Regions from separate parts of the Homo sapiens genome. Here region 2 is linked to region 1. The links come from fine-mapping of genetic effects on gene expression. Tissue or cell type: cerebellum. Region 1 holds a variant in brackets; the other region holds the start of a gene. All regions are shown on one strand. Distances are from middle to middle.

Region 1 (8,000 bases):
GCGGGAATCAGGACTGTTCAGACTCCCCCAGCCAGGGGGGCCCCCTCCATCACCCCGGTGGGTGATGAAACCCTGAGGCTCAGGAGAGGAGGCAGCTCCACACCCCAGCCCGCCAGAGAGCCTCCCTCACCTGCGCCAGGGCCGGGGTCCAGCCCACTGTCCGAGTCTGAGATCGAGAGCGGCCATGACTTGTGAACCTGGTGTCCTCGCCCGGCTGGAGAAAGAGGCGTCTCTGGTGAAGGGCCAGGGTGGGTCGCAGGGAGCCAGCGTCCGCCCCTGGGCCCCGCCGGACACTCACCCCTGTGGTCCTTGGCAGGTGTGCCCTCAGTGCACCCGCCTTCTTCTGGGGGGCTCCCGGCAGCCTCCGGCCGCGCCACATCACTCACGTTGAAGCTGCTCTTCCGGGCACGCATGACGGGGGACCTAGTGGAAGAAACCGGGAAAAGGAGGGGAGGTGATGGGGGGCAAGACAGCTTCATCTTCATGCCCCCGACAGAGGGAAGCCCGGCTCCCAGGCAGGGCCTTGTGCGCCGGGGACAGGGCAGCTGGGTGGCGGTACCAGGCGTTGGCGGAGACGTGGGGCTCAAAGTCGTAGTGCACATCGGGCTCCTGGTCCCGCTGCAGCTGGCGCACGTGGGAGGCGTACTGCTGGCCTGGGTCATACAGCTTGCTGCTCTCACACAGCATCTGGAAGTGCACGGGCAGCGGCGCCGTCTGCATATGCATCATCTGGTAGTAGGAGATCGTGGCCTGCGGGCGGCACCGGAGAGCGGAGGGGTCAGGAGGAGGCCGCCCGGTCCACCATCCCCGCCCGGGCGGCCGGAGCACCCCACGCACCGACTTGATGGTTTGGTCGCTCTGCCGGATGACCTCCTGGATCTGCCGCAGCGCCGTCACCTTGGTATCCTCCAGCTCCTGCTTCTGCGTCTTCGCGTCGGCCACGCAGGTGCGGTAGGTGGCCATAGCTTCCTCCGCCTGCGGTGGGGGCGGGGCGCACAGAGAGAGGCCTCAGCCCGGGGTGCAGGACTCAGACAGAAACCTCAGGGAGGCGGGGCTGACGCCTGTCATCCCAGCGCCTCGGGAGGCCACAGTGGGAGACTTGCTTGAGGCCAGGAGTTCGAGACCAGCCTGAGCAACATGGTGAGACCCTCCCCATCTTTTTTTTTTTTTTTTTGAGATGGAGTCTTGCTCTGTAGGCCAGGCTGGAGTGCAGTGGTACGATCTCAGCTCACTGCAACCTCCACCTACCGGGTTCAAGCAATTCTGCCTCAGCCTCCCAAGTAACGGATTACAGGTGCCCCCCACCCACCATACCCGGTTAATTTTTTGTAATTTTAGTAGAGATACAGGGGTTTCACCATGTTGCCCAGGCTGGTTTCGAACTCCTGGCCTCATATGATCTGCCCGTCTCAGCCTCCCAAAGGGCTGGGATTACAGGTGTGAGCCACCACACTCAGCCTGAGACCCCCATCTTTATAAAGAATTTTTTTTTTTTTTTGAGACAGAGTCTCGTTCTGTCGCCCAGGCTGGAGTGCAGTGGCGCGATCTCGGCTCACTGCAAGCTCCACCTCCCGGGTTCATGCCATTTTCCTGCCTCAGCCTCCCGAGTAGCTGGGACTACAGGCGCCCACCACTACGCCCAGCTAATTTTTTGTATTTTTAGTAGAGACGGGGTTTCACCCTGTTAGCCAGGATGGTCTTGATCTCCTGACCTTGTGATCCACCTGCCTCGGCCTCCCAAAGTGCTGGGATTACAGGCGTGAGCCACTGCGCCCGGCCAAGAATTTTTTTAAATTAGCTGGGTGTGGCGGCACACGCCTGTGGTCCCAGCTACTCTAGAGGCTGAGGCGAGAAGATTGCTTGAGCCCAGGAGGTAGAGGCTGCAGTGAGCCATGATCACGTCACTGCACTCCAGCCTGGGTGACAGAACAAGACACTGTCTCAAAAATAATAATAATTTAAAAATCGGGGCCGGGCGCGGTGGCTCATGCCTGTAATCCCAGCACTTTGGGAGGCCGAAGTGGGTGGATCATGAGGTCAGGAGTTTGAGACCAACCTGGCCAAGATGGTGAAACTCTGTGTCTACTAAAAATACAAAAAAATTAGCTGGGCTTGGTGGCAGGGTGGCTGAGGCAGAGAACTGTGTGAACCTGGGAGGCGGAGGTTGCAGTGAGATCTCACCACTGCACTCCAGCCTGGGCAACAGAATGAGACTCTGTCTCCAAAAAACAAATTGGCCGGGCGCAGTGGCTCATGCCTATAATCCCAGCACTTTGGGAGGCCGAGGTGGACGGATCACGAGGTCAGGAGATCGAGACCATCCTGGCTAACACAGTGAAACCCCGTCTCTACTAAAAATACAAAAAATTAGCCAGGCGTGGTGGCGGGCGCCTGTAGTCCCAGCTACTCGGGAGGCTGAGGCAGGAGAATGGCGTGAACCCGGGAGGCGGAGCTTGCAGTGAGCCGAGACTGTGCCACTGCACTCCAGCCTGGGCGACAGAGCAAGACTCCGTCTCAAAAACAAACAAAAAAACAAAAAAACAAAAACAAAGGTCTGGAGGTAGTAAATGTCACACCAAGCATTGGATCTCCTCCTCCAGGGACCTCCAGCCCTGCCTCCACCCGCCCTCACCTTGTTCTTGGCCTCCTCCTCCAGCCGCCGCCGCTTGTCCAGGGTCTTGGTGGCCGTGCTGCCTGCTCCCGGCGCGCTGCCAGCCTGCTCCTCCTCCGCCTTGGCCACGAGGAAGCGAGCCTTGTCGTGGTCCTCGCAGCGCTGCACGTAACCCTGCTTGGCCTTGCGCAGGTTGGACTCCGCCTCTTGCTGTGGGTGTGGGAGCCAGGAGGCCAGTTCCAACCCTATCCTCGGATGGGACTCAGTCTCCCCAGCTCCTCCTTTCCTCCCCACCCCCATCTCTCTCAGCAAGGCCCCATGGCCCAGCTGGGCATGCAGAGGACCCTGCACAACAATCGGCAGCGGAAAAACAGGAGGAGTGGCCGGGCGCGGTGGCTCACGTCTGTAATCCCAGCACTTTGGGAGGCCGAGGCAGGTGGATCACTTGAGGTCAGGAGTTTGAGACCAGCCTGGCCAACATAGTGAAACCCCGTATCTACCCAAAATTTAAAACAATTAGCCGGGCATTGTGGTGCACGCTTGTAATCCCAGCTACTCGGGAGGCTGAGGCACTAGAATCGCGAACAGCTTGAACCCAGGAGGCGAAGGTTGCAGTGAGCCAAGATTGCATGCACCACTGCACTCCAGCCTGGGCAACAGAGATTCCAGCTCAAAAAAAAAAAAAAAAAAAAGAACGGGAGGAGGCACCCGTAACAGGACACTCGGAGAAATGGGTGTCCTGTGTGCCCACTCTGCAGCCCGGGAAGCTGAGGTGCAGCCAAGCTCTGCACAGAGGCTCACACGGCAGCCTCTGCAGACACGCACACCAGCCCCCACGGGAGCGTCTCCGGGCTCTTTTGCTTTCACTTCCCTCCTCACAGACGAGAACAGAGAAGCCGCCCAGGCAGGAAGCCAGGCGCCCACAGGTTGGCAGGAAGAGCACTTAGTCAAAAACCTGTGGGCTCGGGGGCCACACCTCACAACCTGCACCATCAGATTCGCACACAAACAAACGGACTCATCCAATTACTAGGAGACCGCCAGGCGCCATGGGTCACACCTGTACTCCCAGTGCTTTGGGAGGCCGAGGCAGGAGGATCACTTGAGGCCAGGAGTTTGAGACCAGCCTGGTCAACATAGTGAGACCCCATCTCTACAAAAAAATTAAAAAATTTAGCCAGACGTGGTGGCGCACACCTGTGGTCCTAGCTACTCGAGACCAGCCTGGCCAACATGATGAAACCCCATCTCTACCAAAGATATAAAAATTAGCCAAGCACGGTGTCTTATGCCTATAATTCCAGCACTTTGGAAGGACAAGGTGGGCAGATTACCTGAGGTCAGGAGTTCGAGACCAGCCTGGCCAAGGTGGTGAAACCCCATCTCTACTAAAAATACAAAAATTAGCCAGGCATGTTGGCTGGCGCCTGTAATCCCAGCTACTTGGGAGGCTGAGGCAGAAGAATCGCTTGAGCCCAGGAGATGGAGGTTGCAGTGAGCTGAGATCGATCCACTGCACTGCAGCCTGGGCAACAGAGTGAGGCTCTTGTCTCAAAAAAAAAAAAAAAAAAAAAAAAAAAAAAGACTACTGCCAACAATCACAGGTTTCTACCTGGCAAAATAGGCCACAGGTAAAAATCAAAAGTCAAACAGTAAATTGTGGGAGGGGAATGGGGGGAGTCTAAAACTCACATGATTAAGGCCTAAGTTCTCTAATATGTAAAAAGCTCTGACAAATCAATGATAAGCCACTGTCCAGTACAAAGTAAGCAAAGGATAAGAACTAAGCAAAGGTTAAGAACTGAGGGTTCACAGAAGAGGAAAAGCAGGGCTGTGGCCTGGGAGGGTAGCTCATACACGCACGCCCCTTGACCCAGCAGTTCTATTTTGGGCACTGATCCCTCAGGCATCCTTGAGACAGGGGCACAAGCTTGTCATAGCAATGGTGTTCGTAACAGCAACAGCTCAGCCACTCCCAAGACGTCCATGAAATAACCTACTCAATCTCCTCAGCTGAGCCCTGCACAGCCGAAAAAAGGG[G/T]TTCAGGCTGCTTCATGCTGACTGATATCGGGTGAGCCTCTCTATATGGAGGTGAGGATAAAAATCAGGAGCAGAACAGGGCATGAGGTGAGCTGTCCTCGTGTGTACAAAACAGGGCAGATATGTGTTTGCCGGTATGTGCTGGAAGGAGCTAGGAGGGTGCGTTTCACTGCAGACCGTGTTAACACAGCTAAAAAGCAAACAAAAACTGGGCAACATAGTGAGTATACAAAAAATACAAAAAAATGAACTGGGTGTGATGGCTGGTGCCTGTAGACCCAGGAACTCAGGAGGCTGAGGTGGGAGGATCATTGCAGCCCAAGAAGGCAAGTCTGCAGTGAGGTATGATTGCGTCACTGCAGTCCAGCCTGGGTGACAGAGCGAGACCTTATCTCAAAACAAGCAAAGAAACAAACAAAAAGGCGCCGGCGTCTTTGAAATAACCCAAAAGCGAAGTGGGAAGAGAATACAGGCAGGAGGCCGGGTGGGTGCGGTGGCTCACGTCTGTAATCTCAGCACTTTGGGAGGCCGACGCGGGTGGATCACCTGAGGTCAGGAGTTCGAGACCAGCCTGACCACTATGGTGAAACCCCGTCTCTACTAAAAATACAAAAATTAGCCAGGTGTGGTGGCGTGCTTCTGTAATCCCAGCTACTCGGGACGCTGCGACAGGAGAATTGTTTGAACCAGGGAGATGGAGGTTGCAGTGAAAGCCTAGATGGTGCCATGGCACTCCAGCCTGCAGCCTGGGCGACAGAGCGAGACTCCGTATCAAAAAAAAAAAAAAAAAGAATACATGCAGGAGCATGGCGCTTTCCCAGTCCTGAGAGACCATCAGTCTCCCTCAACCCGGAGACCAGCTGCTTACAACCGAGGGAGGCACGGCTTCTCCCCATTTCTGCAGGGACAGCAGTGAGCGCCGGGCTCCTGGGTCCTTCCAGGCAGAGCTGGGGGCGACGGGGCTGGAGCATCTCCGACCCGGCTTGGCGTTGGGGGGGGCGGCCCAGCCTGCGAGGCCGCGCATGCGCAGGAGGCCGGGGCGTGTGCGGAGCTCGCCGCAGGGCCCTCGCTATGGGGCTGGGGCTGGGACTGCGCCTGCGCCGAGGCCCGCTGCCCGCCCCCGCCCGCCCCCGCCCGCCCGCCTCACCAGCTTCCTCTGGGCACGGTGCCAGGCCTCCTTGATCTCCTTCCTGCGCTTCTCGTGTTCAAGCCGCCGCAGGGTCAGGGGCTGGGGCGAGACGGGCCGTGAGTGGGTACCCCGGTGACACCCCCGCCCAGCCCGCCCTCCCGGGCACCACGCACCTGCATGAAGGTCTGGGTCTGCAAGGTGCCCACCGCCTGCACCATGCTGTGGCCGAACTCCAGGTCCTGCTCCAGGGCCAGCGAGTAGATGGACAGGAGCGGCATGTGGGGCTGTGGGTGGGGCACCGGCTCACTGGGTGGGGAGGGATGGAGGCAGGGCGGCCCCAGCACCCCCAGCCACCAGCTCCCTGGTCCCTGCAGCCACCCCCGTTAATGTAGAGGGGAAGCCCCTGCTCTTGGTCCCTGGGCCCTTGAAATGGGGCTGAGACTCACACCCGGGCCCAGGGACCCCCGCCCCGTGCCCGCGGGGCCCCCACCTCCTGCATGACGCTCTGTCTGCAGTTGTGAGCGATCTTCTGCAGGCCCTTGGCAAACTCCATCTCTGCGGGCCGGAGAGGGGTGTGAGGTGCTGGGACAAGGCCTTCCCAGCTCACCCAGAACCCCCTCCCTCCAGACCCACCCTGCTGGGACACCAGCTCTCACCCAGCGTCGTCCGCTTCTCCAGGTAGCTGATGAGGTCCTTCATGTACTTGGCCATGTTCTTGGCATACAGCAGTGCGGCATCCACGCCCCCCTCACAGCGCTGTAGCAGCACGTCCACCTCCTCGGCGGGCAGGCAGCCTGCAGGGAACGGGGGCCTGCTCAGCCTGGCCCGACCCGCGCAATGGCCCACCCCTCAAATGCCTGCCTGCCGCTGGGTGGGGGCTTACCGGCGTCACAGTCTTCCAGGCTGGGAGGCGTGCCCTCACTGCCCGGTCCATACAGGCTTTCCATGGACTGTAGGACGGAGACGCAGGTGAGACCAGCCCCATGCGGGGCCCTGGGCAGTGCCCACCCTTCAGGGGACGGTTGCTGCCTCCCCCAGAGAGGGAAACCAAGGCGCACAGGGGAAGCAGGGTGACTGTCTGGGCCCTGCAGACCTGAACCCGGCTGGCCTCCAGAAGCTGGACACAGGTGGCCCTGGCCCACCCCACTCACCTGGCTCGAGTCCCCAGGAGGCACTGCTAGGAGGGTGCTGCTGTCCACTTCACCCATGAGGAACTCGGACACTCTGCAGGGCCAGCGAGGTCACCATCGAGAGACACCCGGGCCCCCCACGCTCCCTTGCCCTGCCCCACAGGCTCCCGTGCTCACGTGCTACTGAAGGCCACAGCAATCGTCTCCAGGGCCTTCTCGAACTCCTGTTTCTCCAGATCATTGTTGCTCTCATAATGGAAGGCTGGGAAGCAGAGATAAGGACAAGGAGGTGGGCCCACTCTGGGAGGTGACCATCCCTGCAAGAACTGACCGGAGCCCTTAACCCAGGGGGAACAGGAGGGAGCTTGTGCCTGTCAAACTCCTATGCATCCTTCAAAACCCACTTCAAACATCCCCTCCTCCAGGATGCCCTTCTAGGCAGAGAGCCCTCGCAGCCCTGTTCCAGCAGGCTGACCTTTGACCTTGGCAATGAGGGTGCCGGCTGCGGTGAGCGTCTCCACGGTGTTCAGCAGCGGGTACTTGGAGATGATCTGATGCATGACACGCAGAGCCTCACCCAGGCACTCGTGGGCCCGCGGGCGGCGGGCCTCAAGGAGGTCTGCTGGGGAGAGTCGGAGTGAGCAGTGGGGTAGGGCCCAGTCCCAGGGAAAGTCTGTCCACCTCCTCCCTCTTTAGAGCTCCTGTTCCCAGATGGGGAAACTGAGGCAGAGGTGGAAGACGGCAGATGCCTGGGGCTCATTTCGAGACCGCGGGGAGGGCACTGTCCCTCCCTGGGCTACCGGCCAGATCAACAAAGGCCAGACGTTGGCCTAGGCACTCTGCTGCTCAGAACACTCTTTTCTTGTCCCTCCAGAAAGCAAACTGCCTCTTGTCCTTCAAGCTACAGTCCTGCAGCCCCTTCCTCCATGCAGCCCACCAGGCTCCTTCCCTGCCCTAACTCCTCAGGACTGCTCAAAGCCCTGTCCAGGTCTCTCTCTGCCCTTCCTAAGTGAGGAAACTGAGGCATAGAGAGGGGAAGCCATTTCTCAACAATCACACAGCTTTTCCATCTACGCTAGCTCTGAAGGCG
Region 2 (8,000 bases), 36 kb after region 1:
GCCTGTAATCCCAGCACTTTGGGAGGCGAGGCGGGTGGATCACCTGAGGTCAGGAGTTCGAGACCAGCCTGGCCAACATGGTGAAAGCCCATCTCTACTAAAAATACAAAAAGTAGCCGGGAGTGGTGGCGCATGCCTGTAATCCCAGTTACTTGTGAGGCTGAAGCAGGAGAATTGCTTGAATCCAGGAGGCGGAGGTTGCAGTGAGCCAAGATCTCGCCACTGCAGTCCAGCCTGGGCAACAGAGTGAGACTCCATCTCTTAAAAAAAAAAAAAAAAAAAAAAAAAGCAGGACGTGGTAGTTCACGCCTGTAATCCCAGCACTTTGGGAGGCCGAGGCGGGTGGATCACGAGGTCAGGAGATCGAGACCATCCTGGCTAACATGGTTAAACCCCGTCTCTACTAAAAATAAAAAAAAAAAATCATCCGGGCGTGGTGGTGGGCGCCTGTAGTCCCAGCTACTCAGAGGGTGAGACAGGAGAATCGCTTGAACCCGGGAGGTGGAGGTTGCAGTGAGTCGAGATCACGCCACTGCATTCCAGCTTGGGCGACAGAGCGAGACTCCATCTCAAAAAAAAAAAAAAAAAAGTGGGGGTCTGCACGGAGCCCACCTTCCCATCCACCGGGCCTGTCTACCCTCCTCACCGGGGAGCCACATCCCACCTCCCCAGCACCCCCGCACACCTGCAGCATGGCCACATTGGAACTGTCGTTCATGAAGGTGAAGATCCGGGGTCCCAGCATCTCCCACACCTCCCGGACATCCCTCAGCAGGGTGAGCTCCTCGAAGGTCCGGTTCACCTGTGGACAGCACCCCCTCCACTGATGACCCTCTCCTCCTCTGAGGACCCCTGCCCACCCCCTGCCCCCTCTGCCTTGCTCCTGCGTGTGCCTCTGATCCTCCGCACAAGCTGATCCCCCTCCATCGGCTAACTCCTACTTCTTCAAATAGTTTCCGTGACCCTCCGGCCTGGCCCTGGCCCACCTGGACTGAGGGTACTGGATGGGCTCTGGCCACCACCCTCCCACCCCAGCATCCAGGCTGCCCCCACCTGGGCCATGAGCTTCCGGGTAAAAGGTGTATCTGGTGCAAAGAGTAGCTTCCCGAGGATCAGAGGCTTCAGGCGTCTCCAGAGCAGGCGGGACAGCGGGTGGCTGTCCAGGGCTCCAATCAGCTCCGAGCAGGCGGGGCCTGGGATGGGGGTGCCATGAGGCCCTGCCCCCCTGCCCAGAGTTCCACTTCCCAAGAGGGGAAACCGAGGTCAGTCACTCACTCAGGCTGCTGTCTGGCAGGGCGGATTCTGGCTCCTGCCCCACCAGCTCCATCAGGTCACTAGCCTCGTACCAGTTGAGGGAGGGGCCCACTGTGCTGCTAGGTCCCCTGACACTGCAGAGGGCCTCTGACAGCAACTCCAGGGGGCCGCTGGTCCCTCGGGGTCTCTGCAGCAGTGCCCGAAGCTCCACCAGGCTGCGCAGCGCCAGGAGCTAGAGAGAGGTTACCAGACGGAGCTGGCAATGATCCCACCTCCAAGCCCTAACCAGGGCAGGGCACTGGGCCAGGGGCAGCCTCTCCCTCTCGCTGTCTAATCCTCCTGAAAACCCACCCAAGGGAAGTGCCCGGGCTGCCCCAGACCCTCCCGGCGCAGGCTGCCTGCCAACGTTGCCTCCATGGGGGTTGAGGATGAGTGGGGCCTCGTACCTCCTGGGCCAGGTCCTCAGCGGCCTCCAACAAGCTGTGCAAGGGCTCCTGGGCTTGGCCCAGTGCCAACCCCAGGGATTCCTGGGGAGAAAGACCACAAGGGGGACAATGATTTTGAACACTCACTAGGGGTCCAGCGCTCTGGCCAGTTCCCAGGCAGACCATACTATCATAGCCCCCACTTTACAAATAGGGAAACTGAGGCTCTGAGAGGCAAAGGGACTCATTGGAGATCTCACAGACGAGTCTTCCTCACTGGGTCAGACACACTCTGTCTGGGGGCCCAGACGGACAAGCAGCATCACCGCAGAGACCAGGGACAGCCTGGATGCCTGGAACGGGAGGTCCTTGGCCCGGGGTGGGGCAGTGCCAGGACATCCCCAGTGCAGTGTCCCAGGAAGTCAGCGCGGTCCCGCCCCGACACCCTACCGTGCGCAGCAGTGACGTCAGCAGCTCCGCGACATCCAGCATGGGTGGTTCCAGTGGAGACTGCTTGGTTGGTTGAGGCTGGGCTGGGGGAGGAGCGCACGGGAGCATGGGGCTGGGGGGACGTTGGTCTGAGGCACCCACCCCCACCCTGTGCCCATTTCACGGCCCGGCAAGTTGAGGCTCAGAGCTCAGCCCTGCCAGAGGCCCCCCGGCCTCCTCACCCGTGCTGCGTGCAGCCCTCAGCGTGGCGATCAGCTTCCCTAGGCCAGCCAGCGTCCTGTGGGCACTGGCCCCTCCCAGCACAGTGCGGGCATCGGCTAGCAGCCGGGAGACCCTGGGGACAGAGAGAGGGCAGGAGGCGGGGTTCCGGCCGGCACTGCAGCCCCGAGTTTGCAGGCCGGCCGCACCCACTGCCTCTGGCTCACAGGGAGTCGTTGAAGTTGCTCAGGCGCCCGGGCTCCTCGCCCGGTGTCAGCTGCGGAAAGCAGGTGTTGTTCACATTACAGATGAGACCCTGGAGCCAGGGCACGGTGCCCGCCGATGGCAGTGGCTTGTTTGGGAAGTGGCCTGCGGGGAGACGCCTGGTGCTGAGGCCCTGTGGACTCTGCCTGACTCCACCCCCATCGGGTCGCCCGGCACCGCTTGCATGCCTCCAGCGATGGAGAGCTCACTCCCATGCCATGTATTGGCGGCCTGGTGAAGGCTCCCTGACATGCACGGGGGATTCCTGTGCACGGGTGAGCCATCTGCCTTCCCCTACACACACAAAGTGCCTGGTCCCTGGGGGGGCTCACATTCATGGTGCTCCAGGGGCGGGTGGGAGTGGCGAACAGCCACCAGGATGAAGAAGAGGAAGAGAGGCCACAGCAATTCGACCAGGAGCTGGACCTGGGGGAGAATAGGTGGGAGACGGTGGGGGACAGTGGGGGCTGCCTGCCCACCCGGCCCTGGTCTCACACTGGGGCGTTACCGGCTGTCTCCGGCGATACATGAAATTCTTCCAGAGCAGCAGCATCAGCTGTGTCCAGAAGGCCATGGTGAGACTGGGCAGGGGACGGGACAGAGAGGTCAGGACAACGGTCGGGCTGAAGACGTGCGGTGCGGCTGCGGGCAACTCCCTGCCCCTTTCTGAACCTCATTCCTTTATCCCACAGCGCAGGGTTCCTGGAAGCTCTGATTAGAGCGAGGCAAACAGTAGTCACTCGATAAAGAGGCTCCGCTACCCCAGGGGTGGAGTAAACCAATGGGAGCGCAACCCGCAGCCGTCCTCGCATCTGATTGGCTGCCAGGACTGTCGCTCTGAGCAGGGCTGACAGCTGGGGACTTAAAGATCATCCTCTAATCCTCCAGGGACCGAGTTTGGGCTTAACGCTTTCGTCACCAGGCTCCACCCCAAGCCTCACCTGGAAGCCTCTTCCAGGTCCTGACCCCCAGCCTCCTGCCTGGCCCAGCCCAGGCAAGGATTCCTTTCCCCTCACTGTTCTCCGAAGATAACAGCAACGAATATTGGCAGTGCTGGACATTTCACACGCCCAGGGGAAGTGCTGGACTATCACCCCACTCTACAGAAGTGGAAACCGAGGCCCAAGAAAGCAAACCCAGGCACCCAGAGAGACAGGCAGTTGCCCAGCTGGAGGCACGACCCCAGCTCTGCCCACACCTTATGTAGCATTAATCGCTCAGAGGGACCGCGGGAGCCAGAGAAAGAGTCAGGCGAAGGGGCTGGGATAGAGACTCCTGGAGTCAGCGATTCCTGATCTATTTTCCTTGGGCCGGTCCACCTCTGACACAGATGGAGAATCTGACGCTGACAGAGGGGCAGGAAGTTGCTAAAGGTGACCAGGCCGGAACTGGGACCTCAGACCCAGACCCTTACGCCAGGGTTCTTTCCTTTACATCAAGCGGGACTTAGGATCTGGGGGAGTGGGCTCAGTTTCTCCATTTGTAAGACGGGGCAAGGGGGAGTGCAGGAGTTCTAACGGGCAGGGGGCTGCAGGTGTGTGATCGGCAAAGGCCCTCTTAAGGGTCCCAGATGTCCGATGCCCCCCTTGAGAATCAGTGATCAATTCAGCCGTCGTCAACATTCACCGGAAGGAGGTCAGAGGCTGGACCCCCTAATTCCCAGGGAACTTGCATCCCTCCCGGCCCCAACCCCGCATTCTCGAGTCTCGGGCCTTCTTCCCTCTCCGAGTCCTTCTCACCTTCCAGGGGCTCCGCAGCTCTTGCCGCCTTCCCTCCGCCCAGCAGCAGGCAGGGAGCGCGCCGCCCCTTAAGCCAAGTGCGCTGAGCTTGCCCGCGCAGGTAGCAGCGCCGGGGCACGCCCCTGCCTCTGCACGCTGCTATTGGGCGACCTGCCCGTCACTCACTGGCCTGCTCCGTCGGAGCTGCGCGGGCCAAGGGAGGAGACGGGATCACAGAAGGGCCTCGCCTAGCCGGGTTTCTTAAAGGGACCGCGCGGCTCTTGCTGCATCACCGTAGGGTGGCGGAGTGCCCGGCAGGTCCCAGGCAGGCCGCCCTCCGGGAACGAGGCTGCGCTGTCTTTGGGGAGCCAGGCTGCCTCCCCACGTTGTATAACCGGCTGCAATACCGCAGCTCCGAATTGCAGGAGTTCCCTCTGTCCCCGCTGTCCCCGGGGCTGGCCAGGCTCCCTCTAGTTTAGTCCAGACTCTGGGACTACACTCGTCCGTCTGTAAAGTAGGGGTTCCACTAGATCATTCGTTCATTCATTCATTCCACGAACGCTCCTCGGCTTCTGCAGAGGATGGCAGGAGGGGGAGGGGGCCAACATTCTAGAGTCTCCGATTATAGTGGCTACCCTGATTTTGAGGAAAACCCGTTTCCCACTCTGGAAGAAGAGTTGAAATAAACTCTTCAGGCTGGAGGTGAAGCTGAAATGGGAGCGTGTGGGTCCACAGCTTTGAAGGCGCTGGGGAGAGTGAGAGGCGTGGGGACGGCTCCCGCGGCAGGAGGTGGCATTGCCGTTGGGGCTTTGAGGATAAATAGGAGTTCGCCAACGGGGAGACATCCAGGCTGAGGCCACGAGACTTGCGCTGTAAGGTAGAGTGCAGCCAAAGCGCATGGGGGGCATTTGAGGGAACTGCCTCTTCTCCAAATGGCCAGGAAGCCCAGCCTCTCCCTCTACCCCAAGTCCCGGCCCTTCAAATCATTCATTCCACCCAGACTCACCTGTGGCTTCAGCTTTTGCTCCTCCTCCCAATGGTGAGGTGGACATTTTCCCCTTGATCCCCCCATCCCCCAAGACCTCCTCTCTCCCCACAAAAGCATCAAAGCAAAGCACGCCCTCATCGACGCCAACTCTCTTGGCCACCTTCTCTTCGTACAAACAGAGGTTTTATTGCGTTTGGTCCACAGTCGTATTTCACATTATCTCACGGAGCAGGTCCCCTGGGTGGGGGGTCCCTGTGCAGTACTTGGCGGGGCATGTGGCCGGGGAAGATGGAGCAGTATAAGCTGGTCGGGCCCAGAAGGGAGGAGGGCTGGGGGCTCCTTAAAACCTACTGAGGGGCTGGGCACGGTGGCTCACACCTGTAATCTCAGCGCTTGGGGAGGCGGAGGCGGGCGGATCACACCTGAGGCCAGGAGTTCGAGACCAGCCTGGCCAACATGGGGAAACCCCATCTCTACTAAAAATACAAAAATTAGCCGGGCGTGGTGGAGCACCTGCAGTCCTAGCTACTCAGGAGGCTGAGGCTGGAGAATCGCTTGAGCCCGGAAGGTGGAGGTGCAGTGAGCCAAGATGGCGCCACTGCACTCCAGCCTGGGCAACAACCACAACTGAAAAAAAAATCTACTGAGGCCAGAGTGGGTTGGGGCGGGGAGCATGGAGAGGGGGTCAGGCTTAGCCCCAACAACTCAGAATTTCACTTCCTTGTACGGCCCTCACTTTCTCCACCTGGCCCCGGGGCAGGTCTGAGGGTCTGAAGTCTGTTGGTCTGAAGGTCCTAGGCAAATCCAGTCACTTGGGAGCCGGAGATATTTAACATCACGGCCCGGTCCCCTTTCCCAGGGGACTCATTTCCTAGCACTCTCTCCACTGTCCTTGCCCCACCCCTGGGGGAAAAAATGTATTTTTCTTTTGTGAATACTTCCTGAAACTTGCGGGCATAGAAACCACAAACTGCTCAGCTGACAAAAGGGGGAAGAGGCGAGGCAAGCAGAAACCGTCGGGGACCGGTTCCTTCCAAGCCCAGGTCTCTTCTTCCCAGCACAGCCTGAATGTGCCAGCAGGGACCCTCGCCCTACACGTATTGGGATATGGCCTTGACCCCTTCCCCCACAGCCCAGTGGCTCAGCCTTGCGAAGGATCAAGGCAAAGGGGAAAAAAGCTCTGCTGCCTGATCCCACGCTGACACTCACAGACCCTTGGTTGACTGGCAGCACTGAACGGGTTAAGAAAAAAAAAAAAAAGATGAAAACACAGAAAAACCCAAAAACCCAGATGGGCAGACGATGTGGGGAGAGAGCGTGCTGGGAGCCTCAGTAGCCGGCCTCCTCCTGGTAGTAAGGGGGATATTCAGGGACCTCCCCCGGGTCCGGGCAGTCGCCGGTGCCCGAGGGAGCCCCATCGGCCACTGTGCCTTGCGGGCAGTACTTGGGGTCATATATCTGCCGGCCCAGGCCGAAGACCTGGCCGCTCTGGTTGGCGCCCTGCGTGTAGCCCATCTGCAGGGACATGGAGGAGTTGTCACACTTGTCGGTTCCCAGCTTGGTATCATAGATGTGCCGCCGGGTCCCGGGAGCCGTCATGCCCACCTGGAGAGGAAGGAGGGGTGGAGCAGGTCATGGTGGAGAGAAGAGGGGACCTTCACTGGGTGCACTGGCTCACGCCTGTAATCCCAGCACTTTGGGAGGCCAAGGTGGGAGGATCACCTGAGGTCAGGAGTTCCAGTCCAGCCTGGCCAACACGGTGAAACCCTGTCTCTCCCAAAAATACAAAATTAGCTGGGCGTGGTGGCACATGCCTGTAATCCCAGCTACTCGGGAGGCTGAGGTGGGAGGATCACCTGAGGTCAGAAGTTCAAGACCAGCCTGGCCAACACGGTGAAACCCCATATCTACTAAAAATACAAAAATTAGCCGGGCGTGGTGGCGGGCGCCTGTAGTCTCAGCTACTCGGGAGGCTGAGGTGGGAGGATCACCTGAGGTCAGGAGTTCAAGACTAGCCTGACCAACACAGTGAAACCCCGTCTCTACTAAAAATACAAAAATTAGCTGGGTGTGGCCGGGTGCGGTGGCTCACACCTGTAACCCTAGCAGTTTGGGAGGTCAAGGCGGGTGGATTGCCTGAGCTCAGGAGTTCGAGACCAGCCTGGGCAACATGGTGAAACCCCATGTCTACTAAAAATACAAAAATTGGCCGGGTGTGGCAGCATGCACCTGTAGTCCCAGCTACTCGGGAGGCTGAGGCAGGAAGGAGAATCTCTTGAACCCGGGAGGCAGAGGTTGCAGTGAGCCGAGATCGTGCCACTGCACTCCAGCCTGGACAACAGAGTGAGATCCTATCTCAAAATAAATACATAAATAAAATAAATAAAGATTAAAAAAAAAGAATTGGGTGGACCTTTGGGCAGTCCTTAAGGGAAAATGACACAGGGTGAGGTAGTAACTTCCCTAGAGACCCACAGCCAGGTGGAAATGACAGAGGCTGAAATCCAAGGCGGAGACAGAGAGCGGGGAGGGAAGCCGGAGGTGGTCTAGGGAAGGGGCTGAGACTGAGAGTGGGGAGAGAAGCTGGAGGTGGCCCCAGGGAGGGGCCGAGACCACAGGGTGTAGAGGGGCAGGGAGAGGAGTCGGGGGCACCCGGGCGAGCCCCACCTGGCTGGCACACTTGTTCGTGCCCATCTGGAGGCT

Evidence for each region. PIP is the estimated chance that this variant, and not a neighbour inherited with it, causes the effect.
Region 2: it holds the start of ABCA7, and the variant in region 1 is fine-mapped to the expression of ABCA7 in cerebellum (GTEx, PIP 0.94).

What each region holds. Positions count from the first base shown.
Region 1 is chr19:1,072,678-1,080,677 of GRCh38, reverse strand. ARHGAP45 (Rho GTPase activating protein 45) reads right to left here. Exons shown (of 23, transcript NM_012292.5): 3 at 7,386-7,529; 4 at 7,088-7,172; 5 at 6,932-7,004; 6 at 6,664-6,730; 7 at 6,437-6,574; 8 at 6,271-6,335; 9 at 5,954-6,064; 10 at 5,799-5,879; 11 at 2,633-2,821; 12 at 838-975; 13 at 560-750; 14 at 299-423; 15 at 131-214. Among named protein-coding and RNA genes, the nearest start is that of ARHGAP45, 9.5 kb to the right of the region's middle. RefSeq lists silencers at 3,143-3,232, 5,580-6,109, 6,120-6,229 and enhancers at 3,403-3,542, 4,914-5,208. The variant G/T (reference allele first, on the strand shown) is at 4,652.
Region 2 is chr19:1,036,527-1,044,526 of GRCh38, reverse strand. ABCA7 (ATP binding cassette subfamily A member 7) reads right to left here and starts at 4,420. Exons shown (of 47, transcript NM_019112.4): 1 at 4,331-4,420; 2 at 3,100-3,302; 3 at 2,924-3,017; 4 at 2,555-2,696; 5 at 2,351-2,463; 6 at 2,130-2,212; 7 at 1,701-1,781; 8 at 1,276-1,486; 9 at 1,054-1,193; 10 at 686-802. The coding sequence starts at 3,165. It overlaps CNN2 (calponin 2), which reads right to left. Exons shown (of 7, transcript NM_004368.4): 6 at 7,965-8,000; 7 at 5,462-6,902. The coding sequence ends at 6,627. RefSeq lists enhancers at 2,576-3,373, 5,266-5,765, 5,766-6,267, 5,855-6,414 and a silencer at 3,285-3,424.